3 linked regions of the Homo sapiens genome follow. The protein of the gene in region 1 interacts with the protein of each later gene in a pairwise test. Each region holds a gene or a part of one and is shown in the gene's direction. Other genes may lie near its edges. The genes, in order: CLEC2D, PLLP and CLRN2.

Region 1 (11,458 bases):
GTCAGTTCCATTCTGAAAGCCTTTGTAGTGCTATTCAGACATGTGCATCAACCAGGGGTGAAATTGGGAACTGTGCAATGCTCTACTCATTAGTTCAGGTCTTAGCATCTTTAGTGTGCCAATTAGAACCATATCTAGGCATGCATAAGTTGAGGGGCAGGTGAATCCAGGAGTTTATGAATAATGTTCATGGGTCTCTTTCTAAAGTTTCTTCCTCTTCACCATCTGACCCGTACTTTCAGGTTCCCAGGGGCTTCTCCTTTCCATCCTCCAGCTAGAAATGCGGGCCTCCTTTTATTCTGATGAACCATATACTTCTGCAATTATAGCTGCATCTTTAAGCTCATGTGGCAGACGGACAGTGAGAAAGAAGAAAAAAAAAGCAAGAGGTTTGGCCCCACTCTCATGGAGCTACAGCTCAACTGAATGGAAAGGATTGACTTTAGATTTCTTTTCTTTTTTTGAGGTGGAGTCTCACTCTGTCCCCCAGGCTGGAGTGCAGTGGCGCGATCTCGGCTCACTGCAAGCCCCGCCTCCTGGGTTCACGCCATTCTGCCTCAGCCTCCTGAGTAGCTGGGACTACAGGCGCCCGCCACCACGCCCGGCTACTTTTTTGTATTTTTAGTAGAGACGGGGTTTCACCGTGTTAGCCAGGATGGTCTCGATCTCCTGACTTTGTGATCCGCCCGCCTCGGCCTCCCAAACTGCTGGGATTACAGGCGTGAGCCACCGCGCCCGGCCGAGGATTAACCTTTCTCAAGGTTTTGGCTATTGCATGTTGCTGTAGTTTCCCCTACCATCATCAGATTGCCTGAGGTTTGAGGCACATGAGAATGTAGACAAGAGGGGGAGAAAAAATAAACGTGGTATTTTCACACTCTATTTGAGATAGGAGTTTGCTTTTCTGTTCCTCAGACCATACCTCTAGTGCTTCTCCTGGAGCCCTCTCTTTATGCTGACAGAGGCTCAATTCCATGTTTCTGGCTGTATTAAGTTCGGGGCAGTGATACTAGAGGAGGGAAATTTAAATTCACCACTGGTTTGATGGCTCTTTAAATTTGGATATTCTTGTAAGATCTGCTGCTAGTATATCCTTTTTCCTTTTGCTCTTTTTTGTTTTGTTTAAAGACCATATTTTTAGAGCCATTTTGGGATCACAGCAAAATTGTGAGAAAGGTAGTTTTTTTTTTCATTTTCTCCTTGTTGCCACACATATATAGACTCTGTCTTAGTCTGTTTTGTGCTGCTATTACAGAATACCCAAGACTGGGTAATTTATAATGAACAAAATCTATTGGCTCATAGTTCTGGAGGCTGGAAAGTTCAAGACTGAGAAACACATCTTGCTCCATCATCCCATGGCAAAATTTGGAAGGGCAAGAGAGCACATGCATAAGAAAGAGAGAGAGCAAGAGGCACCAAACTTGCTTTTATAACAAATCCACTTTCGTGATAGTAAACCCACTCCCATTATAAGGACATTATGACCTGATTACCTCTTAAAGGACCTGCCTCTCAACACTATTGCATTGGGGATTAAGTATCTAACACATGAACTTTGGAGACACATTCAAACCATAGCAGTCTCTAACATCAACATTCTTCACCAGCAGTACATTTATTACAATTAATAACCTACATTGGCATATTGTAGCACTCAAAATTCATAATCTGATGGACTTCCCTTTGTCAGTGACCTGACCTTTCTCCCTGGCTGCCCTTAATATTTTTTCTTCCATTTCGACCTTGGAGTATGTGTCTTGGGGTTGATCTACTCATGAAGTATCTTATTGGGGTTCTCTGGATTTCCTGAATTTGAATATTGGCCTGTCTTGCTAGGTTGGGGAAGTTCTCCTGGATTATATCCTGAAGTGTGTTTTCCAACTTGGTTCCATCCTCCCTGTCTCTTTCAGGTACTCCAGTCAGTGGTAGGTTCGGTCTTTTTACATAGTCCCATAGTTCTTGGAAGTTTTGTTCATTTCTTTTCATTCTTTTTTCTCTAATCTTGTCTGTCTGCCTTATTTCAGCAAGAGAGTCTTCAAGCTCTGATATTTTCTCTTCTGCTTGGTCAATTCAGCTATTGATACTTGTGTTTGCAACATGATGTTCTCGTGCTGTGTTTTTCAGCTCCATCAGGTCATTTATGTTCCTCTCTGAACTGGTTATTCTGGTTAACAGCTCCTGTAATCTTTTATCATGCTTCTTAGCTTCTTTGCATTGGGTTAGAACATAATGCTTTAGCTCAGCGAAATTCGTTATTACCAACTTTCTGAAGCCTACTTCTGTCAGTTTATCCATCTCAGCTTCAGCCTTGTTCTGTGCCCTCACAGGAGAACTGTTGCGATCATTTGGAGGAGAAGAGGCACTCTGGCTTTTGGAATTTTCACCGTTTTTTCATTGTTTTTTCCTCATCTTCGTGGATTTATCCACCTTTGATCTTTGAGACTGATGACCTTTGAATGGGGTTTTTGTGGAGTCTTTTTTGTAGATGTTGTTGTTGTTACTTTCTGTTTGTTTGTTTATCTTCTAACAGTCAGCCTTTCTGAGGCAAGTCTGCTGCAGTTTGCTGGGGATCCACTCCAGACCCTGTTCACGTGGGTATCACCAGTGGAGGCTGCAGAACAGCAGATTGCTGCCTGCTTCTTCCTTCAGAAGTTTTGCCCCAGAGGGGCACTGGCCTGATGCCAGCCGGAACTCTTCTGTATGAGGTGTCTGGTGACCCTTGTTGGGAAGTCTCACCCAGTCAGGAGGCATGGGATCAAGGACCCGCTTATGTAGAGAATCTGACATTCCCTTAGCAGAGCTGGTGTGCTGTGCTGGGGGAATCCCACTCATCGGGTTCATCTGGTCTCTTCAGAGCCAGCAGGCAGAAAAGATAAGTCTGCTGAACCTGAAACTGCCTCTCCCCTCAGGTTCTCTGACTCAGCGAGATGAGAGTTCTGTCTGTAAGCCCCTGACCAGAGCTGCTGGAATTCTTGCAGGGATGACCTGCCTGGTGAGGAGGGATGGCTCAGGGTCCCACCTAAAGAGGCAGTCTGGCCACAACCTGCCACAGCCAGTTTGCTGCACTGTGGGAAATCTGGCCCAGTCCAAACCTCTCAGGCTCCTTTGCACTGTCAGGGGCAAACCGCCAACTAATGGTGGTCACCCCTCCCCCCAGGAACTTAGTCATTCCAGGCACACTCCAGACTACTCTGCTGGCAGCAGGGATCTCAAGCCAGTGGGTCTTAGCTTGCAGGGATCCATGGGAGTAGAACCTACTGATTGAGACTGCTGGGCTCTCCTCCTTGGCTTCAGCCCCCTTTCCATGGGACTGGATGGTTCTCGTGCCTCACTGGAGTTCCAGGCACCACTGGAGTATGTAAAAACTCCTGCAGCTCAGTGCCTGCCTAAACAGCCACCAATGGGAGTGGCTGTCATTGGTTTGCCCAGGTTTGTGCTTGAGACCCAGGGCCCTGGTGGTGTAGGCTCATGAGGGAATCTTCTGATCTGCAGATTGCAAAAATCTGTGGGAGAAGCATAGTACACCTGGTGGGTAGGACAGACCCTCGCCACTTCCCTTACCTCAGGGAGGCAAGTCTCCCCACCCTGTGCAGCTCCTGGGTGAAATGACACCCCACCTGCTTTCTTCCTGCTTCCTGTGGGTTGCACCAGCTGCCCAATGAGATGAACTTGGTACCTCAGATGGAGATGCAGAATTCACCTGCCTTCCGCATTCATCTCACTGGGAGCTTCAGACCAGAGCTGTTTCTGTTTGGCCATTTTGGCCCCTCCCTTCAAGTATGTTTTCTTTTGTAAGAAACTGCCAAAGTGGCTGTAGCATTTCGCTTTCTTACCAGTAATGCATGAGACTTCTGGTTGCTCCACATCCTTGCTAGTATTTGATATTGTTAATGTTTTAATGTAACACTTAAGTAATATGTAATGATATCTCATTATTTTAACTTGCAATTCTCAAAAGACATATGATATTAATAATTTGTCTTTTCATTATTTTGATTATGTCTTTTGCAGGTTGAAAGTTTTTAGTTTTAATGAAGTCCAGTTTATCAGTTCTTTCTTTCATGGATTGTGCCTTTGGTATTATATTTAAAAAGTCATCACCATACCCAAAGTTATCTAGGCTTTCTCTTATATTATCTTCTACGAGTTTTACAGTTTTGTGTTTTACCTTTAGGACTATGATACATTTTGAGTCATTTTGGGGAAAAATGTAAAATCTGGGCCTAGATTCATTTATTTGTATGTGGGTGTCTAGTTATTCAGCATCGTTAGTTGAAAAGACTGTCTTTTCTTAATTGTATTGCTTTGCTTGTTTATGAAAGATCAGTTGACTATATTTATCTGGGTCTATTTCTTTTTAGTCTGCTACTCTGCTTTCTATCCTTTTTCATTAATTTATTTGTCTATTCCTTTTTTTTTTTTTTTTTTAAGAGACGGAGTCTCACTCTCTTGCCCAGGCCGGAGTGCAGTGGCGCAATCTCGGCTCACTGCAAGCTCCGCCTCCTGGGTTCACCCACCATTCTCCTGCCTCAGCCTCCTGAGTAGCTGGGACTACAGACACCTGCCACCACGCCCGGCTAATTTTTGTATTTTTAGTAGAGACGGGGTTTCACCGTGTTAGCCAGGATGGTATAGATCTCCTGACCTCATGATCCACCTGCCTTGGCCTCCCAAAGTGCTAGGATTACAGGCGTGAGCCACCGCGCCCAGCCTTATTTGTCTGTTCTTTAACAAATACCACACTGTCTTGATTACTGTAGTTTTAGAGTAAATCATGAAGTCAGGTAGTATCAGTTGTTTAACTTTGCTCATCTCCTTCAATAATGTGTTTGCTTTTCTGGGTCTTTTGCCTATCTATATAAACTTTAGAATCAGTTTGTTGATATTTATACAATAACTTGCTGAGATTATTATTATCATTGCATTTAATCTGTAGATTAAGCTGGGAAGAATTGATATCTTGGCAATGTTGAGTCTTTCTCTCCATGAACATAAAATACTTCTCCATTTATTTAGTTCTTCATTGATTTCATTCATCAGTTTGTAGTTTTCCACATATAGATTTTGTATATATTTTGTTAGATTTATACCTAAGTATTTTATTTTTTGAATGATAATGTATATGGCACTGTGTTCTCAATTAAAAGTCCATTTGTTTATTTCTGGCATATAGAAAAGTGATTGACTTTTGTGTATTAGCCATGCATTCTGCAACCTTACATATCAGTAACCTTGCATGTCAGTTCCCAAAATTGTCAATTATTTTGGATTTTCTACATAGATGATTATGTCATCTGCAGAGAAATACAGTTTTATTTCTTACTTTCTCATCTGTATACCTTTTATTTCCTTTATTTCCTTTTCTTGTCTTACTGCATTATCTGGTACTTCCAGAACAATGTTGTAAAGTATTGGCGAGAGGGACATCTTTGCCTTGTCCTTGATCTTAGTGGGAAAACTTCAAGTTTCTCACCATACTTGAGGATGTTAGCTGTAGGTTATTGTAGATATTCTTTATTAAGGTGAAGAAGTTCTTCCCTATTTCTAGTTTACTGGGAGTTTTTGTCACAAATCTGTGTTGAATTTTGTTTACTGAAAGTTATCACAAATGGGCGTTGAATTTTGTTAATTTTTTTGTATATATTGATATAATCAAGTGATTTTTTTTAGCTTGTTAATGTTATGGATAACATTAATTGATTTTTGAATGTTGAACCTGCCTTAAATAGCTGAAATAAATTTAACTTCATCACAGTATATAATTCTTTTTATACATCATTGGATTGGATTTGCTGATGTTTTGTTAAGGTTTTGCATCTATGTTCATGAGGTATATTGGTCCATAGTTTTCTTTTCTTGTGATGTCTTAATCTGATTTTCCTATTAGGATAAAGCTGGCCTCATAGAATGAGTTAAGAAGTATTCTCTCGGCTCTAACTTCTAAAACAAATTATAGACAATTGGTATAATTTTTTCCTTAAATATTTGGTTGAATTCACCAGTGAGTCCATCTTGACATGGTGCTTTCTGTTTTGGAAGGTCAACTTCTGTAATAAATGTAAACATATTTAGGTCATCTATTTCTCCATGTATGAGTTTAGACAAATTATGTCTCTCAAGTGATTGATCCTCTGTGTGGACATAGAACTGTCCATTTTAGCATCCATGGGATCTGTAGTAACAACTCCTTATTTATTTCTGATATAGATAATTTGTGTCCTTCCTCTTTTCTTCTTAATTAGCCTGGCTAGAGCCTTATCCATTTTTTTTTTTTTAATCTTTCAAACCTAGTTTTTGGTTTTGATAACTTTTTTCTATCAGTGTCCCATTTTTTATTTCTGCTCTAATTATTTCTTTTCTTCTGTTTAATTTGTACCTGATTTGCTCTTCTATTTCTAGTTTCCTAAGGTGTAAACTTAGATCATTAATTTTAGATCTTTATTTTTTTCTAATAGATGCATTCAATACTATCAATTTCTCTTTAAACAATGCTTTTACTGCATCCCACAAATTTTGTTAAGCTGTATTTTCATTTTCATTTAGTTGAAGTATTTTAAAACTTCTATTGTGATTTCTTCCTTGACCCATATGTTGTTTAGAAACGTATTGTTTAATCTCCACATGTTTGTGGAGATTAGTGGGATTTTAAAATTTTCTTTCTGTTATTGACTCTAGTTTATTTACATTGTGGTCTGAGAGCAGACGCTGTATGATTTCTATTTTGTTAAATTTGTTAGGATATGTTTTGGCCCAGAAGGTGGTCTATTATGGTGATTATTCCATGTAATCTTGAGAGTGTGTATTCTGCTGTTGTTTGACAAAGTAGTCTATAGATGTCAATTATATTCGGTTAATTGATGATGTTGCTGAGTTCACCTAAGTTCTACTGATTTTCTGCCTGCTGGATCTGGGCATTTCTTTCTTTCTTTTTTTTTTTTTTTTTTTTTATTTTGTTGTTTTTGAGACAGAGTCTCGCTCTGTCACCCAGACTGGAGTGCAGTAATGCAATCTCATCTCATTTCAACCACTGCTTCCCGAGTTCAAGCAATCCTCCCACCTCAGTCTCCTGAGTAGCTGGGAATACCGGCAAATACCACCACACTTGGCTCATTTTTGTCTTTTTGTAGAGACAGATTTTACCACATTGCTCAGGTTGGTCTTGAACTCCTGAGATCAAATAATCCAGCCTTTTGGGCCTCCCAAAGTGCTGAGATTACAGTCATGAGCCAATATACCCTGCTGGATCTGTGCATTTCCAATAGAGTGTTGTTGAAATCTCCAACTATGATAATGAATTCATCGATTTCTCCTTGCAGTTCTGTTAATTTTTGCCTCACGTAGTTAAATACTCTCTTGTTAGGTGCGTGCACATTTAGGTTTGTTATGCGGAAACATAACATAGTTTCTTGGAAAGCTAATTCTTATACCATTATGCAATGCTTTTCTTCATTCCTGATAAATTTCCTTGCTTTGAGGTTTGTTCTGTTTGAAATTTGTATAGCTTCTCCTGCTTTCTTTTGTTTGTGCCAGTATGATATAATACATATATATATTCATGATCCATTTACTTTTAATTTGTGTGTCTTTATATTTAAAGTGCATTTCCTGCAGACATCATATAGTTTAATCTCTGATTTTTAATTGGTGCATTTAGATCATTGATATTAAAATGATTATTAATATAGGTGGATTAAATATCTACCATATTTCTTTCTGTTTTCTATTTGTTGCCTTTGTTCTTTGTTTCTATTTTTGTTTTTCATTCTCTTCTTTTCAGAGACTGAGTCTCATTCTGTTCATTAGGCTAGAGTGTGGTGGTATAATCATAGCTCCCTGTACCCTTGAAATCCTAGGCTCAAGTGATTCTCCTACCTGAGCCCTGAGTACCTGGTATTACGGGCATGTGCCACAAAGCCTGGCTAATTTTTATTTAATTTTTGTAGCGACAGAGTCTTTGCTACGTTGCCCAGGCTGGTCTTGAACTTCTGGCCTCAAATGATCCTCCTGCCTCAGTGTCTCAAAGGGTTGGGATTATAAGTGTAAGCTACAACACCCAGCCATGTCTTCCATTTTTTTCCTGCATTTTTAGTTTTTAACTTAGCATTTATAAAGTTCCATATTTTCTCATTCTTAGTATATCAATTATACTTTAAAAATGTGATTTTAGTGGTTACCCTAGTGTTTGCAATATACACTCACAACTAACATAAGTTTGCTTTCAAATAATACTATACCATTTCACAGGTACTGTGAGTACCTTATAATAAAAAAATCTAATTCTCTGCTTTTATCCCATGTGTCATTTCTGTTATTTATTTTATTTACATGTAAGAATACATAAGCATATAAATATATATAAAAGATGTATACATAAGCACACATAATTAAATATATTGCTACTATTGTTATTTTGAACAAACTGCCATTTGTTAGATCAATTAAGAATAAGAAAAATAGTTTTATTTTACCTTCACTTATTTTTTATATTGTTCCTTTTTCATATAATTTAGGTTTCTAACCTGTATAATTCTCTTTCCTTTTAAAATAATTGCATTTAACTTTTTTGTTTTTTGATATAAGACAAGTCTACTGGCAACAAGTTATCTCAATGTTTCTCCAAAATAGTGGTTGTTTCTCATTCACTTTGAAGAATTTTTTTGGCTAAAGAATTCTAAGTTGATAAGGTTTTTTCTCTTAATACTTTAAATATTTGTTTCCACTGTCTTCTTGCTTGCATGGTTTTTGAGAAGAATGTAAATGTCATTTTTATCTTTGTTTCTCTACATGTAGAATTTATTTTCCTCTGGATTCTCTTATGATTTCTTAAATCTTTGATAAAGGGGGTACAGGGGCATATGTGAACTCTATATTTTTAATTCAGTATTTCTGTCAACTTAAACTGATAAAAACTAAAATCTATTGATTAAGACAAATATCTTGGGAAACATCAATGTAAAGCTTGCTGATCTCTCTAGTGTTGGGGGGAATGTTGGAGAAAAATATGCCTATTTAGCTAAGGACAAACCTAGATAAATTAACTAGAGGTGTGAATTGTATGCAAGAGATTGTGTCAGAACAGGGTTCCAATAATGAACTTCATAAGAGGTTTTAGATAACCTAAGACATTTTGAAATATAACACAACTACAGGAAATTATACAATACAAATATGTAGCTTGATTAATTATTATAAGATAAACACCTTTGTTGACTCCTGATATGGCCTAGCTGTGTCTTTACCCAAATCTCATCTTGAATTGTAGTTCTCATAATCCCCACTTGTCATGGGAGGGACCCAGTGGGAGATAACTGAATCATGGAGTTGGTTACCCTCGTGCTGTTCTTGTGATAGCGAGTGAGTTTTCATGATATCTGATGGTTTTATAAGGGGCTTTTACCCCTTTGTTAGGCACTTCTGTCTCCTGCTGCCATGTGAAGAAGAACACGTTTGCTTCCTCTTCCACCATTATTGTAAGTTTCCTGAGGCCTCCCCAGCCATGTAGAATTGTGAGTCAGTTAAACTTCTTTCCTTTTTAAATTATCCAGTCTTGGGCAGTTCTTCATAGCAGTGAGGATGGACTAATACAACTGCTAACATTGTCTAAGAAAGATCCTTGTTATGTGGCTCAGAGGCCCTCCATGTATTCTTAACTATTCACTCTCCTATCCTTCCAAGAATAACACTAATTTGACCTCTACAATAATCACTTTATCACTCCAGTTTTGCCTTTTTTCCTCCAAAACAATGCCTTTTAAGTCTATTTTAATCGATAGATTTCCTCTTAATATCATTTAAAAATATTTCTTTACATTTTTAGACAGGAATCAGAATAATTTGCTATGTTGAATTTCCAGTTACTTGGATTTTGTTGATTTCATTCCTGTGGTTTAGTTGACATGAATCTCTCCAATTGAAAGGGTAACTTGAATATGGTAGCTGGAAAGTTAAAATCAATTCTTTTAACTTTGGAAAATGATTAAATTCTGGAGATAGAATAGTAAGTTCATAAGATGACAGGTCATTTGCATCCTCTAGTGAAAAGCGAAGGAATTAAATAAAAATAACATTTTGATGCTTAATGTTTCTGGCAGTATTATGTCTGTATTTAATTGTTAAAATGTTTTTCAATAATTTTTTCCAGGTTGTCTGCATTCAAAAGAGCATTCTATTAAAGCTACCTTAATTTGGCGCTTATTTTTCTTAATCATGTTTCTGACAATCATAGTGTGTGGAATGGTTGCTGCTTTAAGCGGTAAGTGAACTGTAATCTTTATTCATCTAGAGAGAATTATACTTGTAAAAAGAAGAGGAAGAATCTGAATAATTTTGTTATTCTTTACAGCTTTTAATATATTGTCTCACTAACTGAGTTACACTCCAATAACTTTTTAAGTGGCACCAAAAATTTTAATTATGTAAATAGGGTTCACATTATTCCAAGTTTAGTGAGATGATCAGAGTCTTCAGAAGGTAGAAGACAGACCACTATTCCTTAAGAATATTGATGCAAAAATTAAAAAAAATAGTAAACTGAAAAATAGTCTCTTGTCCGATCTAGGAACATGGTTAATTTTACCTCCACAACAACCTTGTTTCATGAAAAATAGCAAAACAGATGGTTTAAAGTACACAAAACTACTAAGTGGCTGTATAACATCACAGGCAGCCTGTTCTTTCTTCCTAGCTATTTGAGCATGTTCTGGCCCTTGTTTTTTTTAGCATATGTAGCCCATCTTCCTAGAAAACAAACTCCGTTTAGTGATTGTACCCTAAAAGCAATTAGCTATAAAAATTATCTTGTACTTCAAAACATGCTTGCAGTGCATCTAATATAGACCAAGCGAAGACATAGAAAACTACAAAAGCACTTCCCCCAAACCTCATGCCAATCTGGATATCAACCTAAAATCTACCCCCTGTTACTACATTCTGAAGTAATTTCAGAGAGACCCTTCAAATACTGCTTACGTAACTTAAGAGTCAGCAATACTTGGAGCACTCCATATAACACTCTAAATAATTTCTATTCATTTGCAAATCTTTTGCTTATTATCTTTTGGCATTTTGAAACCACAGATAATATACTTTATACATTTATGAAGCAAAAATAATTTTTTTATTTCAGAGATTTAAGTCAACTAATTGTAACTATTTAAGAAAGAAAAAATTGGAAAGAGACAATTTCTGTACTCTGTAAGTACCTCAGTATTAATCAAGGGAATGTATTCTGAAATATAATTTAAATTTATAGCTCTTTTTTTTACAGTAAGCATATGAAATTGACACTTATGACTGTTTTCCTTTATTATCCATTATGTGTTTCTCTTCCTTTCAGCTAGCACTTTGGAAATGATTTCTTGTGTGGAGCCAATAGCTGGAGCCATCTTCTAATCTGGTCATTTTCTTTCTTTCTTTTTTTAAATGTGTTATTATGTATTACTTTATATCATTTTTA
Region 2 (6,128 bases), on another chromosome or scaffold:
CCCTGGGCTCATGTGATCCTCCCATCTCAGCCTCCCCAGTAGCTAGGACTACAGGCACGTGCCACCATGCCCTGCTAATTTTTATTTTTATTTTTTGTAGAAGAGGAGTCTCACTTTATTTCCCAGGCTGGTCTTGAACTCCTGGGCTCAAGCAGTTCTCTCACTTTGGCCTCCCAAAATTCTGGGAGTACAGGAGTGAGCCACCATGCCTAGGTGCACGGTTTTTTGGGGAACCATGAGCCAGGAAGGACACAGGCTTGACTTTGTCCCAGGAGGGGAGTAGAAGTGAGGGGCTGTTGAGTGGATTTGTAAGAGGCCATTTGGAATCTTAAAAATATTTTTCCCGGCCGGGTGTGGTGGCTCACGCCTGTAATCCCAGCACTTTGGGAGGCTGAGGTGAGTGGATCACCTGAGGTCAGGAGTTTGAGACCAGCCTGACCAATATGGTGAAACCCTGTCTCTACAAAAAATACAACAATTAGCAAAATACAACAATTAGCCAGGTGTGGTGGCGCGCGCCTCTAGTCCCAGCTACTTGGGAGGCTGAGACAGGAGAATTGCTTGAACCCAGGAGGCGGAGATTGCAGTGAGCCGAGATCACACCATTATACTCCAGCCTGGGTGACAGAGCAAGACTCCACCTCAAAAAAAAAATTTCCCTCTGGGGGTGGTCAGAATTTGTGCCTGTGTTGTGTGAGTTTGTGAGATTGTAGCTTGGCCCAGGTAGGCAGCCCTGTGGCTGGAGGCTGTGGCAAGCTGTCAGAAGTTGCCCAGGCCAGGGCCTCAAGTGTGCAGGACAAGCTCGGGCACCTGGCTGCCTGCAGGTGAGGCCCTGAGGCCTGGGAGAGGCTGGGCTCCCCAGGTTTGCCCCAGGACAGTCTCCCCAGGACACAGGGCTGAGAGCGGACATGGGAAGTACCCCGGCCAGACACACAGAAAGCTGCTGGTTTTTTTTTTCCTCTGACCCGGAAAACCCCTGCAGCTGGGGTCTGAGGCTTTCAGTGAGAAGAGAGGCGAGAAAGGCACATGATTGTAAGACAAGCAAGGCTGGGACTAGGCGGCATTGTTTGGAATTCAATGACTTTTTAAACCGAGGAAACGTGAGTCATCCTCAAGACAGAATGGGTTTGTTAGATCTCGACATCCCTGGCAGAAACAGGCAGCGTTTGCAGGGGTCGCTGGGCTTGCAGGGAAGATTTTGGGGCGAGGAGGCGGTGCCTTGACTTCCGGGCTCAGGGTCCACCCCCTCCCTCACGTCCCAGGGACCTCTAAGAGAGAAATCTCCAGAGATAAAAGCCTGTGTGTCTCTTAGGTGCAGATTTGGGGCTCCAGCCGTGGCTGTTAATGGAAGGAGGCTCCCTTCTGCCACAGTGGCAGGACATTGCTTCTTGTGCTTCTGGACCCTCAACGAATGGGGCAGAGAGGGCTTAACTGCATCTAGAGAAGGCTGGATTAGCATGGCCAATTTGGGATTTTCTGGCATGGGGGCTACAGACCCCTACAGGATCCAGGCAAGATATGTGAGTAAATTGGGTCAGGAGGGACCCTGGAGAAGCCAGCATCCATCTGCCCATCGCAAGCTGCCTCTATACTCACTTCATCTGTTCCTAGTGGGAATGCAGCCCCTTTGGAGCGAAATCTTTTGATATCCTAAGTTTTTTTTTTTTTTTTTTTAGACAAAGTCCCGCTCTGTTGCCCAGGCTGGAGTGCAGTGGCACGATCTTAGCTCATTGCAACCCCTGCCTCCCAGGTTCAAGTGATTCTTCCGCCTCAGCCTCCTGTGTAGCTGGGATTACCGGTGGGCACCATCACTCTTGGCTAATTTTTGTATTTTTATTGGAGACGAGGTTTCACCATGTTGGCCAGGCTGGTCTCTAACTTCTGACCTCAAGTGATCTGCCTGCCTCGGCATCCCAAAGTGCTGGGATTACAGGCATGAGCCACACTGCACCCGGCCAAGATTTTTTTAATATAAAATTTTTACATGAAGTCTTCAGGTTTTCATGAAATCTAATTTTATAATGTTGGTAATTTTTTAAAAGTATATTGGACGAACTGAATGAATGTTTGAGGACCAGGCGTTTGAAGACGGTGAATGGGCTCCTGGGGCCAAGCGTTTGGGATGAGGGACTGGTCCCTGGTTGTCAGCAGAGGGCCCCTTCCTGCCAGTCTGGTTCCATATCCAGCTTGAAATATCTGGTCCTCTTGGTCCTGACCCTGGCATTTGCTTAGAGCCTTGAGCTTAGGATGTGGCCAAGAGGGAGACAAAAATTCTTCCCCCTGAAGGCAGAGAGGGATGTGAGGCCCAGCCCAGGACTGGCCACAGAGCCAAACCTTGCAGTGGTACCAGGGATGGCCTGGGCTTGGCCCTGGACCACACTTGGAGGAGTAGCCTGTGTTTCTTTAGCTGGTACAAAGAGATGGGTCATGGATTGGGCTCTTTCTGTGAGGAATGGGTCTGGCACTGCCACTACCCCATCACTGAGGCCCTCCTGTCATTCCCCTCCTCCAGCCTCAGGTGTGTTCATGCTCCCTGCTCAGCAGGCCTCCTGGGGACCAGGGCCTCATGGGCTGACTCCCTGGAAACTGTGGCCTCTTGAGGCCCTGTTGGTGGGAAAGACCCAGGTGTTTGCATCACCATCCAATGGCTATTCAAGGAGTGTGCCAGTGGGAACCAAGAAGCCCCAACCGTTGGTCTTGTCTTTTTTTTTTTTTTTTTTTTTTTTTTTGAGACAGGATCTCACTGTGTCACCCAGGCTGGAGTGCAGTGGTGTGATCATGACTCACTGCAGCCTCAACCTCCCGGCTCCAGGTGATCTTCCCATCTCAGCCTCCCAAGTAGCTGAGATCACAGGCATGCGCCACCATGCCTGGCTAACTTTTTTATTTTTGTAGAGATGGGGCCTACCTATGTTCCCCAGGCTGGTCTCTAACTCCTGGGCTCAAGCGATCCTTCCACTTCAGCCCCGCAAAGTGCTGGGATTACAGGTGTGAACCACCGTGTCTGGCCTCTCTTTGTGTCTTAAGCCTTTTCTCTCCCCACTCCCTACCCCCATGTCCTGCAGTTAATGATCTTTAACATCAGCGCCACCGTTCTCTACATCACCGCCTTCATCGCCTGCTCTGCGGCAGTTGACCTGACATCCCTGAGGGGCACCCGGCCTTATAACCAGCGCGCGGCTGCCTCGGTGAGTCTGCTTCCCAGGCTCCCTTGGTGGTCTGCAGGGTCTCAGCCCCAGGACTCAGGCTGCTCGCTTGGTCTGAGGCCAGGCACCTGCCACCTCCTGAGGGGTTGTCACCTGAACACTCAGTGGGTCTTAGAGGGGAGCCGGGCCGCCTCCAGGCTTCCATAATTAACAGTGGAGAGTGGTGTGTGGTGGGCAATGGAAGTTTTGGGTTAACTATTTTTTCTTTTTTTTGAGATGGAATCTTGCTCTGTTGCCCAGGCTGGAGTGCGGTGACGTGATCTCAGCTCACTGCAACCTCTGCCTCTTGGGTTTAAGTGATTCTCCTGACTCAGCCTCCCAAGTAGCTGGGACTAGAGGTGTGTGCTGCCACACCCGCTAATTTTTTTGTATTTTGTATTTTTTTTGGAGATGGAGTCTCACGCCTGGCTAATTTTTGTATTTTTAGTAGAGACGGAGTTTCACCATGTTGGCCAGGCTGGTCTTTTGAACTCCTGACCTCAGGTGATCCACTCGCCTTGGCCTGTTAAAGTGCTGAGATTACAGGTGTGAGCTGCCACACGCGGCCTGGGCTGACTATTGAACCTTGTTGTAAATCAGCTGTGCCACACTGCCTTAGGGTCACGTGCCCCCTTGGAGAATGTGAAAAACATGCTCTCCCACTGACAAGTGCACGTGCAAAAACCTTTTGGTTTAAACCATTCTGGGAGATTCATAGGCTCTCCCATGAAACCCAAACTCTGGGCCCACGTCAGGTGGCCAGTGAAGTGGCAGTAGTCCCCTCCACGCCTGTCACCCTTCACACCACCAGGCCCTGCACACCATCTCCTCCCAGGATCCTGCGACACCCACAGTGAGGGAGAGGAAGGGACTACCAGTTCCTTTTGACAGACAGGAGGCTCCTGCTCAGAGAAGTTGGACGCCAGGCCTGGAGCCACGGCCAAGCCCAGGGGAGGGCAGGGCCTCAATGGGCACGCATTTGGTTCCTTACTCTTCCTGATGAGGGCAGTTTTGAAATCAGCAAATTCAGTGATGGGGACAGAGACGGGGAGCTTCTGAATGTGGCTGCAGGTGTTAGTATAGAGGCTTGAACTGGTTCTAGGAGATTCCTAGGGTGTCCTTTGAATGTTGTCTTTTTAGAACTAAATCCTTGCTAGGTGTCCCCTCTGTCACTCTTATCTTCTCCTTCATTGCCCTTATCACAATCTGACAGGCCCTGCCTGTGGTTCTTAGCTGTTTCCCATGGTTAGAAGGTAATGTTGGTATCCCAGGACCCTGGTGCTCATCAGCCCCATGATAAACAGCTGTGAAATGCATCTGGCTAAGTGTGAGATGGTGCGGCTGCCACAACCCCTCCTGCCTGGCCTGAGATCTGGTTGGAGCTTGTGTCACTGTCACCCTCTCGGTCCTTAAGCCCTTCTCACCTCTCTTTCAGTTCTTTGCGTGTTTGGTGATGATCGCCTATGGAGTGAGTGCCTTCTTCAGCTACCAGGCCTGGCGAGGAGTAGGCAGCAATGCGGCCACCAGTCAGATGGCTGGCGGCTATGCCTAAACCACCTGTGCCACGGCCCCCTCTGGGGCTGAAGCCGCCGCTGGGTCACAGAGCAGGGTCACCCTGCAAGCCTGAAGCTGGGGAGCCCTGCGTGGAGTCAGCCCAACAGGGACTGCATTTGCTCCTCTCTGCCCGTCAGACATAAGCTCTCACAGCGCTAAGGAAGCAGGCCCAGGCTGGCAGGCATCTCGGCTTGCAGGAGGCCAACTGCTGAGACCTCTTCTCCATCCCCCTTATTCAGTGGAAGATGACGGGGGATCTGAGGCTGTGTCTCTGCCTTGTCTTTAGAGGACTTCAGCGTCCAAGACTGGGGCCCACCCTTCTCACCAGCACTAAATGCACTAACAAGGACTCCAGACCTGCAGCCCCAGACCCGCCGTAGTATAAGCCTAACAAGCAACACGTAGCACCTTAGTCTTTGTTCCAGGAGAGCTGAGCAAGCTGGTGAAACCACTCTCCTTCCTTTAAACACCGTTTCAACCAACCTCTCCCTGGAGCCAACCTGTAAAAAGTGGGTTGATTGCTGACAGCATGGTCTTCCCTCCCTGCATTTCAGACATACCAGTTACTGAAAGCAAATCAGTTTTAAGTGATTTCTCAGTGCTGAAAAGCCTGTCCAGGTTTCCTTCCCTTTCCCAAGCCTCTCTCTGTAATACTCCCTTTGGGCGAAGCTAACATCGGTGCCTCCCCGACCTTGCTGACTAGGCACATGGGACGCAAAGGAGGGAGGGAAGCAAGGCCTTGCCTGGCGAGTTGTCATGTGGTTGGTGGTGACTGTTTTATTTTTTTTAATAAAAATAAAGATGAGAGAAATTATTTGGACAAGATGTTGGCAAATCACTTTTACAGGTGCTTGTAACCTCCAGGAGACCTCAGCTTGACTGTAGAAGATGCCTGCTGTAGGGCAGTTCACGTTCTGGAGTCGTTCAGCACCACCTGCGAACTCTTTGACCGGAGGAAGGCTGCCTATACTTCCTGCTTGCTGGGTCTGGAACAGTCCTGGTTTATGCTGTTTGTGCTGGCATAAATAGAATAGCACGGCCTTTTATTCTCACAAGTGACTCAGTTTGACAATAACTTAGTCACCCTTGCTTTGGGCAGGTTAGGTGAGCTTACTGAATCAAAGATTTCAACAATATCATCTACCTTGAAAGTCTGTGAAGCTTGGAGGTCATATAATCAAGGTGGCTGGCCATGCTGCCTGCTCAGAGCTGGTAGAGACAGCAGAGGAAAGCAGCTGAGTACTCCTGAGCTTATTTTTCCAACACCACAGAACAACGTTCTCTGAACAATAAGGTAAAAGCATTTCTAGGTACCCTCTGTACCCTTTTGTTATTTTTTATTTTTATTTTTTGGAGACCGAGTCTTGCTCTAGTGCCCAGGCTGGAGTG
Region 3 (11,458 bases), on another chromosome or scaffold:
TCTCTGTGAACGTGAGCGGGCACCGACTTTGGCTGGCATTCAGTGTAGCATCAGAGCTGCCCAGGATGTAAGCAGAGCAGTCTGCACAAACAGGAATCCAAGCTGGACTTAGGAACGGGCTTCTGGAAAGGAAAAAACAAAACAGGCAATATTCTGCAAGCCTTTTGAATCGATGAGATCACTGGTGAAAAGTGTCTGCACAAAACCGTAATTAATCAATACCATGCCAATGTAGGGTGATACAGAATTGTATTCATTCCTTGATTTCTATATTTCAGTATTGTAGTAGTTTATAGAAATCTGGCCAAGGTAAATGTCGTATTAAATTTATAAGGACAAAAAGCTGGAACCGTTGACAAATATAATACAAATTGTCATCATTTAAACACACAAAAATTTACATTTGTTATGTATATTCAAGATCAATATGTCTGGGCATATTTATATTTACCTAGCAATTAGATTAGACCCTGGATATTGAACAAATAGCTCCATCAAAATTATAACATAAAACTTGAAAACACACACACATAAACAAATAAAAAAAAGAAATGCTAAAAGCTAACCATGACAACTACATGGACTACTCGATTCTGAACTAGATGCTTTGCTATAAAGGATGTCTTCGGGACTTTAGGGGTCAAGAAAACTTCCCCTTTGCACTCTGAAGGTTCTCTAAACAATCTACTGACAAAAGGCAGATTAATAGGGAAAATGGCTTACACATTTATTAGCATGCATAGGGGAAAAATCACAGAGTGATTGTCCGCTATCTCAATGGGGTACAGGTGGTTGTATCCTCTTCATCTTAGGGGAAAGAGAGATGGGGAAGTGTGGATGATTTTAGGGGACTAGTAAATTATTTTTAGGGAAATTCAATGGGCTTAAAGAACATACAGTGAGCTGGGACAAAGTCTGTTGAGCCCACAGAGCAGACATTGGTTTGTGACAAAAGTCTGTCCAGCTGTGTTAACAGACTTTAGTCTTTCTTCCTGTGATATGGGTACAATTAATGAACACTCAGGGAAGGGACCAGAGGTCTTTTTCTTTGGTAGGTCTGGATGTAGGCAGGTAAGGGAATGTCAGAGAACAACCTCATCCTGTGCTTATGAGACAGACAAAGAATGGAGAGACACGAGGGAGAGGGGAGGCCAGAGAGACCTTGAGACTTCTTCACAAAGCTTCATATTTTAGGGGTGTTGGTTTCTGAACCCCAACAGGTAAATCGTTGAAACTTGAATGGGGTGAGAAGATTAAACAGCAGTCACATGCCAGCATTAACCTAATGACCAGACCCCTGCCATTCCCAGCTCACAGAAATGTAAACTGCTTCGAGTAGGAAGCTGCAAACAAATGCATATTTTGTTTGAGCCTTGGAGGAACTCAGTAAGTACTTCTTGCCTTCCTCCTTCTTCCTTCTTAGAAGGACACCAATGGGAAACATTCCCCTGGGTTCATCTAACGTGGTCTGGTCTGGAAAGCATCAGAACCCTGTGAGAAGCATAAAGGACATTTTATTCTTGTCCCTGAGTAGGAGCGTATTTGAGAAGGTTTTGTTTCCTGCTGCCCTGGGGTTGTCTCAGAGGAGGGTCTGTAAACATCCATTCGCAGTACCTTGGATGTGATTCTCTTTCAAAGCATTCACGAGGAGCCTGGGGCCAGGTTCCTCCTGTGCTTGGCTGGCTTTACCCCAGTACAGCTCAGGGACACTGATAGTGCCAGTCTAGTCTCCTTTAGATTTACAGCTTTTAATTCTAGCACAGTGTAACCTCGAGGCAGCTACGGGGTATATCAGAGCCTCCCACAACCAGGAGTCTGTTTCTCCTGGGGTCTCTTTCTGCCATTCACTATCCATCTGTAGAAAAAAAAAAAAATAATCCCCACAGTCGCAGATCAGTGTAGATGGGGACGTAAGTGAAAATGCTTTGCAAACTCTGGGATGGGGAGGTTTATTGGGTCTCGTTCACAAACAGCCACTTTTCTCATCACAGAGGCCTCCCCAAAAAATCACCCAGGGGAATAAATTCCCACGCCAATCATGGAGAAAACCAAAGAACTATCCATCGCAAAGATTAAGGTCCTTTTTTTATACCCAGGCCCTATGAAATAAAAACAAGTCAACATGGCTGTTTGGGTGGCTAGAGAAAGAAAAAGACAAACATTACTTTAGCATTGTCCACACATTCAATTGTACTATGGAGTATTTACAGACCAGGCTCTTAAGAAAACAGGGATGAACAAACCAGACAAGTACTTGCCCTAGAAAAGCTTAACATCTGGCCGGGTACAGTGGCTCACGCCTGTAATCCCAGCACTTTGGGAGGCCAAGGCAGGTGGATCACCTGAGATCAGGAGTTTGAGACCAGCCTGGCCAACATGGTGAAACCACGTCTCTACTAAAAATACAAAAATTAGCCGGGCGTGGTGGCAGGTGCCTGTAATCCCAGCTACTCAGGAGGCTGAGGCAGGAGAATCACTTGAACTTGGGAGGTGGAGGTTGCAGTGAGCCAAGATTGTGCCATTGCACTCCAGCCTGGGTGAAAAGAGTGAAAATCCATCTAAAAAAAAAAAAGAGAAAGGAAAAAGAAAGAAAAATTTACCATCTGATAAAGGAGAGGCAGATAAATATATACTAGGCACAGAACACAGTATCTGAAGCCATTGCCTTGTAGTTCATTTCCTTCCATTTTTACTATGCTAGAGAAGAGATTTTATTACGCCCATTTTACTGATGAGGAAATTAGAGACCAGAGAAATCGATACATAAAATAATTTCTTTAAAAGCACCTAATGTAATAGATTGCTTTGCAGCTTTTAGTTCTCTGGTTCCTCTCTACTTCCTGCCTCACAGGTATTCCACTAGTGGCCAGGACCTGGGTTTGACTTCAGATGTCCTGCTTTTCTTATTTGCCCTGCTGGGGCGAAAAGGACTGCCAGACCTCTCTGGGATTCGGAGCAAACAAATTATCTTAGATGCTGATAGATGCTGATAGATGCATCATATGCTGATAGATGCTGATAGATGCATCATATGCTGATAGAATGATGCTGATAGAATGATTAATCAATTCTGCTTTCAAGTGAGTTGCCTCTAATGTGTAGGAAACAACTATATCTATTCAAATTCAAAATGAGACCTCCAGGATTCAAAAGACTCTATGTTTAGAATTTTAAACCTCTACTTATCTGTGCTTTCTGATTTTTCTGCTCTAGCCCTGTAATAGAGTAGTTAAGCTGACACTTTTCTTGCTGTGGGAGCGTAGCTAAGCTATTTCACTTCTCCGAGCCTCAGTTTCCTCATTTGTAAGCATGAGAGAGGGTGTCCATGAGCAACAGAACAAAGAATATGTATAAAGCCACCGGCACATAGTCTGCACCCCATATAGGTGGCTGTTGTCATTTATCACCATGAATCGTGTTGTCATTTATCACCATGAGTCGTGTGTAGGGTCATGGATTTCAAGCTAGAAACTTAAATTTAATTCCTAGTGGGAGACATCTAAAACTCTTGGAACCTGGATTTCAAATGTGAAAGGCAAGTGAGCAACAGCTTTCCTAGGGCAGCACTGGGTGTCAGGCTAAGGCAGAGTCACCTCTCAGTGAGAAAGTAGAAAGAACTGGTGCATTAACACTCCTGAGAAATGATTTGAATTTCTACTTTTTTCTTCTTTTTTAAAAAATAATTTAATTTAGAGACAGAGCCTTGCTATGTTGCCCAGACTTATCTCCAACTCCTAGCCTCAAGCAATCCCCCCATAATGGCTCCCAGAAGTGCTGGGATTACAGGCATGAGCCACTGCCCCAGCCTCGAATTTCTAAATAATGACATATATTAAAAAATAATAAAATCTCTATTAAACATGAGGTCCTGAGCCCTGTGTTATGGCCCAAGAATGTGGGGGTTGAGTGAGATTTGCCCTTTGCCAATAAGTATTTTTTAATTATAGTTAATGCACTTCCTACTATGAAGGCCGAGGACTGGGCACTCTTTACCACCCTCTCCACATCACTCCACATTCCCCAAATTCCCTCTCCCCCGTCATCCTAATATGATTATTTCTCAATTTTTAAAAATCAAATCTGGATATGGTTTCAATCATTATGTGGATATAATTCTTTCTTTTTAAAAGATGAATTATATACATTATGGACATTATGGATACTTTATTAAATCAGTCTATTCACATACTGTTTTTTCTCCAATCTTTTGCTATTGTAATGAATATCCAATATTTGATCCACGCTTTGAGCACATGTGGGAGTGCTTCTGGAAAATAAATTCCTAGAAGTGAATTTGCTTTAGTAGATGTTGCCAAATTGCCCTCTAACAAGGTTACATGAATTAATATTTCTATGAGACTTGAGAGTGCCTCTTCCTTACACCATTGTCAACACGGTGTTTTAGCAAACATTTTGATCTTTACCATTCACATAGGTGACTGTTTTCTATTGTAAGAGTTTTGGTAAGCATTACTATGTTAGTCGTGTGTCCTAAGGATTGCCTGGTTAAGAAAGGGGATAATGAAACAATTTAAAAATCAGGCACAAGCGGCAGGGTCTGGTGGCTCATGCCTGTAATCCCAGCACGGGCAGATCACTTGAGGCCAGGAGTTTGAGACCAGCCTGGTCAACATGGTGAAACCCCCGTCCCTGCTAAAAATGCAAAAATTAGCCAGGCATGGAGGCGGGTGCCTGTAATCCCAGCTATTGGAAAGGCTGAGGCATGAGAATTGCTTGAATCAGAGAGAAGGAGGTTGCACCAAGCCGAGATGGTGCCACTGCACTCCAGCCTGGGTGACAGAACAAGATTCTGTCTTTAAAAATAAAAATAAATAAATATCAGCACAAGCTACTGTGTCTGAAACAAAAAGGGGCTGAGAGTTTGAAAAGAGAAAAAAAAAATCTAAGGGACATTAAGATGGGATAGAAGCACAGGGAAGAAAGACGCTTTACAAAGACAAACTCACTGGAAAGGAGCTCATCTTCCAGGGTAAAGTTTCCAATGCTGATTAGATAACCATAGGGAGATAAAAATAAATGGAAATTCAGAACTGGAAAGAAACATCAGAACGCACAATGTAAACGTGGAGTGCCTGAAAATGTGTCACCTAACGGGACACCTAACGGGAAAAACAAAAACTCTAGTTCTCAGGACTGGGAGACGCCAACCTTCAGTGACTAAGAGAGGCAGGTGAACCAGCAAAGGAACTAGTTCCATCAGGGTGGGTATTCAGCAGGAACCTTGGAGCAATTGCAGAGGAATGAGTATGCTCAGAAGTTCTGTAGCTTTCATAATGTTCAATTCTTCATGTAAAACTACTAAAGATCATGACTTGACACTGTTGATACCATACAGTTGTGAACAACAGTTCTCAGAAAAGGAATTTGGAGTAAAGAATTTATTCCAGTTAACGGTTTGCAAACCAGGGAAACACAGCCTCCGGTGTAAAAGGAAGGTGTATTCCAGAGAAGAAAGGGAAGGCTCAGATTTTATAGCAAAAGTTCCCACCCAGGTTTCCAGTCAGGTCTGTTTGGGTAAATAAAGGATTCAAATTCACTTAGTTCTGATTGGTGGATACAGCTGAACCCTGATTAGCTGGTACAGCTGAGCCCCGATTGGTCATTACAGCTGAGCCCTGATTGGCTGAGGCAGATCTCAAAGATAAAAAGGTGTGGGTTTTCAAGGAACTCAGAAGATGCGTGTGACCCCCTAGTCAGTAAATGGCCACTTGGCCCTACTTTAAATTTAGAGCCAGTTAACCACTCAGGACCCATCTTGAAGGACGGGCTCTTTCAGGGTCACATTTGTTCTCATAGTATATTGAACTATAATCTTATATAGAATTAAGAGTTGCCTTCCCCAAACACAAGCAATTAATGTCTCCAAGCCTGTGGGTATAAGGAGTTTATAAAATCTACCTCATGTCTTTGTCATGCACATTGAACAAGATGACGATGTAAAATGTTTGGCCCATGACTGCACTTAGTAAATGTTGATTATCCTCAATTCATATGCAGGGATTACTATCCCCATTGTACTGATGAAGAAATTGAGGCTTGAGAAGTCACATGACTTTCCCAAGACTGTCAAAATATAACAGCAATAACCACAGCTGCCATTTTTGAGAACTGACTTTCCCAGGCACTATTTGAGCTACTCTATTATGTTATGTCATTTCATCTTCACAGCTGGTACTGCTGGCAAACATAGAGAAAACAAATATGAATTAAGATTTCACTAACTTATTTTGCCATACTCATAAGGCAAATTAATATTTTAATAAAACGTTGTGCAACGTGAGAATTATGTGTCCTTCATACATGGGGATAAGCCAGGGTCTACCTTGCTAAGTCACTGGGGCCTGTGTGCATCAGTTCACATCAGATCCCAGAGCTTCAAGCTCAATGCAACTTAAATTGACAGCCAGGGCATATTTTGATTTTGTGTCCACTCTAAGGAACAGAGGCTTGTTGGTCAACTGACAAGCATGAATCTGGGGGCCATGAGTTCATCTCAGAAAGTCTCCCGCTGTTTGAAATCCCCACGCTTGCTGTCTTGCCCTCACCCCTGTCTGTCGAAGCCTTCGTGGTAAGCAAGCTTGGACTTCATGAAAGTGAGTCTAACTCTGACATTGAAATAGTGGCTGTGTCTTGTCTCCCCAGTCTTCCCACACCTGGTGAAGGAGCTCAACGCAGGCCTTCATGTGATGATTCTGCTGCTCCTCTTCCTGGCCTTGGCCCTGGCTCTGGTCAGCATGGGCTTTGCCATTCTTAACATGATCCAGGTCCCGTACCGGGCAGTCAGCGGTCCTGGGGGCATCTGCCTATGGAATGTCCTGGCAGGTAAGAAGTCCCTTAGGGAGAGAAAATTATGTCCACACCATCATAGGGCTGGGCTCCAAGTAGTTGGGCAGAAGGTGTGAAGGAACTAAAATGCCCCACTGGAGCCTTGACCTTCCTGGGTCTAAGACCTTCTTGATGGGCATGGAATGAATGTCCTCTTTTTCTTTTTCTTTTTTTTTTTTTTTCTTTGAGACAGGGTCTCACTTTGTCACCCAGACTGAAGTGCAGTGGTGCGATCTCAGTTCACTGCAGCCTTGACCTCCTGGGCTCAAGTGATCTTCCCACCTCAGGCCCCCAAGTAGCTGGGAGTACAGGCGTGCACCACCATGCCCAGCTAATTTTTTGTATTTTTTATAGAGACAGGTTTCACCATGTTGCCCAGGCTAGTCTCAAACTCCTAAGCTCAAGGGATCCACCTGTCTTAGCCTCCCAAAGTGCTCAAGAATTTCCTCTTTAAGTTGCAGAGTCTGTCACAACAAAGAAGCATCTTATTAGAGTACGTGAATGGCTGAGGGCTTAGAGCAGTGAAGAGAGATCGAGGTGAAAGAAGAAGCCAGAAGACAGAGAGCTGGAAGTAGGGAGAGGTGGGGGCCCTGAGATGGGAAAGAGATGGAGCTGGTGCTGCAGCTAAGGCTGGGAGGAACTCCACAAATGACAGAAGAGAAGGGTAGTGTGAGCAAGAGGCCATTCGTGAAAGGCTCCTCCATTCAGGCTCTGGGTTGAGAAGGGGAAGTGAGTGCCATCTAGTTGCCAAGGTCTTTGGTGTTCCCCCCACACACACACTTGGGCATATTAATGCAGACGTGGCTCACTGGCTGTCTCAACTCTCCCTCCTCTCACCTCCCCAACACCTTCACTGCACCATGCCCTTAAACTAGATGCAACTTACTGAGCAACCACTAAGGGCTGGGCAGGGACCTGGAGATTTTGCATGCATTGCTTCATTTAAATCTCACCACATCCCTATGGGAGGTATTATTAGACCCACAATTACAGATGAAGAGCCTGAGGCTCAGAGAAGTTAAACAGTCGCACCACAATGAGTGGCAGAGGTGGTATTCCAACCTAGGTGTAACTGATTCTAAGCTCTTTATTTTTCCACAGATCCATGCTCTCATTTATGACCATCATGACCTGTTTTCCAAGCCAAAAACTACAAGATGTGTGTGTGTGTGTGTGTGTGTGTGTGTGTGCGCGCGCATGTTGATTTGGGAGTATATTGATGCACAGAAATTAATTCACATTTAATTATGCACTTAACAAATCATCTGTAATGAAAATAACAGAATCTTGTGAAATGAGGGCTGTCACAGAAAACTCAGGTCAAATATTCAAGGTACCATTAGAACAATAATCCCTCGCTATGATTACCTTATACAAGAATAATATAAAAACAGGTAATGTTATTTTATTATGTATTATAATGTATATCAATCAATCAATTATTATGTATTTGCCTTTGTTTGCAGATGGTAGCCACCCTGTAGAATTGTTTACATACATGGCTTACCCTCATCAAGACTACAGGTGTCTTCCTCATCTGCATGAATCCTCACAGAGGCTGTCATGTAAAAAGTGCTCAACGCTGCTTATTAAATAAATATTTATCTCTGTCCATTCCTTTCCTTAGAGAGATAGCACTCTCAGACTCTACTGATGAGAGTATTAGCAACAGGCAAAAAAGCCTGGGCAACACAGCAAGACCCCATTTCTAAAAAAAAAAAAAAATTAGCTGTCCATGGTGTCCGGTGCCTGTAGTCTCAGCTGCTTGAGAGCTATAATCCCAACACTTAGGGAGGCTGAGGTGGGAGGATTGCTTGAGCCTGGGAGGTCCAGGCTGCAGTGAACCGTGATCATGCCACTGCACTCCAGCCTCAGCCAACAGAGCGAAACCTTGTCTCAAAAAATAAAAAATAAAAACAGGCAAAGCTTTATGTCTTTTGACAAAACTTTATTTCTTGCCACTGAGCTTAAAAAAACAACAACACTGTAGTGTCAGAAGGCAGAAAAAGGTGAATAGCCTTTGAATATCTTTTGACTAAACAATTCCATGTTTGAATTTATGCTAAGGAAATACTGGACAAGAGAACAAGGATGTACATAAAATGGTATTTGCTGTAGCACTTTATAATATCAAAAAATTAGAAGTAATCTAGACATCCAGAAATAAGGTCATACTTACATAAATTATAGTGTGTGACCTTATTTCTATAATTTAGTAGAGACTGTTTAGTCTCTACTAAAAATACTTACATAAATTATAGTGTGTAGTGCATAAAATACTATGCACTCATTTATAGTCATGCTGTAAGCCTGGCACGGTGGCTCACGCCTGTAATCCCAGCACTTGGGGATGCTGAGGCAGCAGGATTGCTTGAGCTCAGGAGTTCAAGACCAGCCTGGGCAACATAGTGAGACCTCATCTCCACAAACAAACAAACCAACAAAAATCAAAAATTAGCCAAGCATGGTGGCATGCACCCATGATCCCAGCTACTCAGGAGGCTGAGGCAAGAGGATCGCTTGAACCCAGGAGGTCGAGGCTGCAGTGAGCCGTGATCATGCCACTGCACTCCAGCCTGGGTGACAGAGCAAGACCCTGTCTCAAAAACAAAAATAAAAACAGACAATAAAGTCATTCTGTAACAGAATATGTAACAACACGTAAAAATGTCCAAGTGAGGGGAAAAAAATCAAATTTAAAATCAAAGTAAGAACACCATAATACTAATTTTCTTAAAGAGAAAGAAACATAAAGAAAAACACTAAAATGTTCAAAGGGTTCAAGCTGGCTTTTAGGATAAAAGTAAATTTGCTTATGATTTTCTCTGGTGTCCAAATTTTTCTTCGATGAAGATATACTAATCTTTTAAGAAGCATCATAAATGTGTTATTAAAAATATTAATTAAAATTGAAACCAGAGGAAGAGAGGGGGAGAGAGAGAGAGAGACAGATTCCTCCCAGAAAGTCAAAGTTTCAAGCAAAACATAGGGAAGTAGTTTGGAATTCTTCCAGTTTTCCCCTCCCTCCTTTCCTTTTTCTATGAATGGTCATCCTTATCCTTAAGCATGGAAGGAGGATAATTAAACAGGAGAGCAACAGTTTTTCTTACATCTTGCCACATAGCCTTCACGGTCTTCATAGAAATCCTAGGATATTTTAGACAATGAACTTCTCCAAACGTGGATCCTTAGGAAGCATGGTACTGGGTAAGGGGAAAAATTGGAAGAGTGGGCCGGGTGCGGTGGCTCACACCTGTACTTCCAGCACTTTGGGAGGCCAAGGTGAATGGATCACTTGAGGTGAGGAGTTCGAGACCAGCCTGGGCAACATGATGAAACCCCATCTCTACTAAAAATACAAAAATTAGCCGGCTGTGGTGACAGGCACCTGTAGTCCCAGCTACTCAGGAGGCTGAGGCAGGAGAATGGCTTGAACCCGAGAGGCAGAGGTTGCAGTGAGCTGAGATGGTGCCACTGCACTCCAGCCTGGGCAATAGAGCAAGACTCCATCTCAAAACAAACAAACAAAAATAATTGGAGGGGTGGAAATTCAAAGCTGATAAAGCAGATCCTCTCTTTCCCCGCACAATCCTGCCTTTCTCCTTCATACTGTGTGGGTTATCTCCTACTTTTAAAAGCAAATTAAAACTTATGTCTTCCTCATAATTTTGTTAACCCAAAGCAAGTTTGTCACACGTGGCACAGAAATGCCACCTCTTACAGAGTTGCAAAAAGGAGCCGTGAATGAGGGTGACCTTTTTGAGTTTCAGGCGGCGTCGTGGCGTTAGCCATCGCCAGCTTCGTGGCTGCGGTGAAATTTCACGACCTGACGGAACGAATCGCCAACTTTCAGGAGAAGCTCTTCCAGTTTGTGGTGGTGGAAGAACAGTATGAAGAGTCGTTTTGGATCTGCGTGGCCAGCGCTTCGGCCCATGCTGCAAACTTGGTCGTGGTGGCGATCAGTCAAATTCCCCTCCCTGAGATTAAGACCAAAATCGAAGAGGCCACGGTCACAGCTGAGGATATCTTGTATTAATAGCCTTCCCCTGTTCACAACCTGTCCTAAGTCAGTTCTGTGTGCGAATGGAGTCCTCATGTTTTTGCAGCCTTCCCACTCCATCATGGCTATGTTCTCAGCAGTAAGAAAAAGGATGTGAAGGACCAAGGCTGTTGCCTGGGCCAGAAAAGAAAAACTTGCCCGGAATCCCCAGCGTCCTTGCATTCCTCTCTCATGACCTTGGAGTTCAAGTTGCAGCTGGAGACTCTGCCACTTGCCGGCTGTGTGTGACATTAGACAATTCACTTAATGTCTACGTCTCTGTTTCTTCATCTGTAAACTAAGCACAGTAACAACTTCGCAAGGCTATTGTGAAATTTAAATGGGTGATGATATTGCCAGATTCTGCATTCTGTAGAGCACTTGACAAATATAAGATACTACATACTCCAATAAGTGTCTGTAGATCCCTGGTCGATTCCATACAATATTGGGCTGGTGAGTGGGGAAGAATTCTAAGAGGAATATGATACTGTTCCCGTTCCTGCCCTCCAGAAACACCTATCTTTCTACATGACACAGGACTTAGCAACGGTAACACTAAGAATGTAAGTA

Evidence for each region.
Region 2: the proteins of CLEC2D (region 1) and PLLP interact in binary tests that used the Homo sapiens proteins (3 or more experiments, as listed by UniProt).
Region 3: the proteins of CLEC2D (region 1) and CLRN2 interact in binary tests that used the Homo sapiens proteins (3 or more experiments, as listed by UniProt).

The regions. Positions count from the first base shown.
Region 1 is NC_000012.12:9,670,779-9,682,236, forward strand, and holds part of CLEC2D (C-type lectin domain family 2 member D), read left to right. Parts: intron 1-10,144; coding exon 10,145-10,255; intron 10,256-11,458. UniProt on the Homo sapiens protein: Receptor for KLRB1 that protects target cells against natural killer cell-mediated lysis. Inhibits osteoclast formation. Inhibits bone resorption. Modulates the release of interferon-gamma. Binds high molecular weight sulfated glycosaminoglycans.
Region 2 is NC_000016.10:57,255,522-57,261,649, reverse strand, and holds the end of PLLP (plasmolipin), read left to right. Parts: intron 1-3,065; coding exon 3,066-3,188; intron 3,189-4,620; coding exon 4,621-4,737; 3' UTR 4,738-5,553; downstream 5,554-6,128. UniProt on the Homo sapiens protein: Main component of the myelin sheath that plays an important role in myelin membrane biogenesis and myelination. Plays an essential function in apical endocytosis. Regulates epithelial development through the regulation of apical endocytosis.
Region 3 is NC_000004.12:17,516,201-17,527,658, forward strand, and holds the end of CLRN2 (clarin-2), read left to right. Parts: intron 1-6,663; coding exon 6,664-6,843; intron 6,844-10,616; coding exon 10,617-10,882; 3' UTR 10,883-10,904; downstream 10,905-11,458. UniProt on the Homo sapiens protein: Plays a key role to hearing function. Required for normal organization and maintenance of the stereocilia bundle and for mechano-electrical transduction.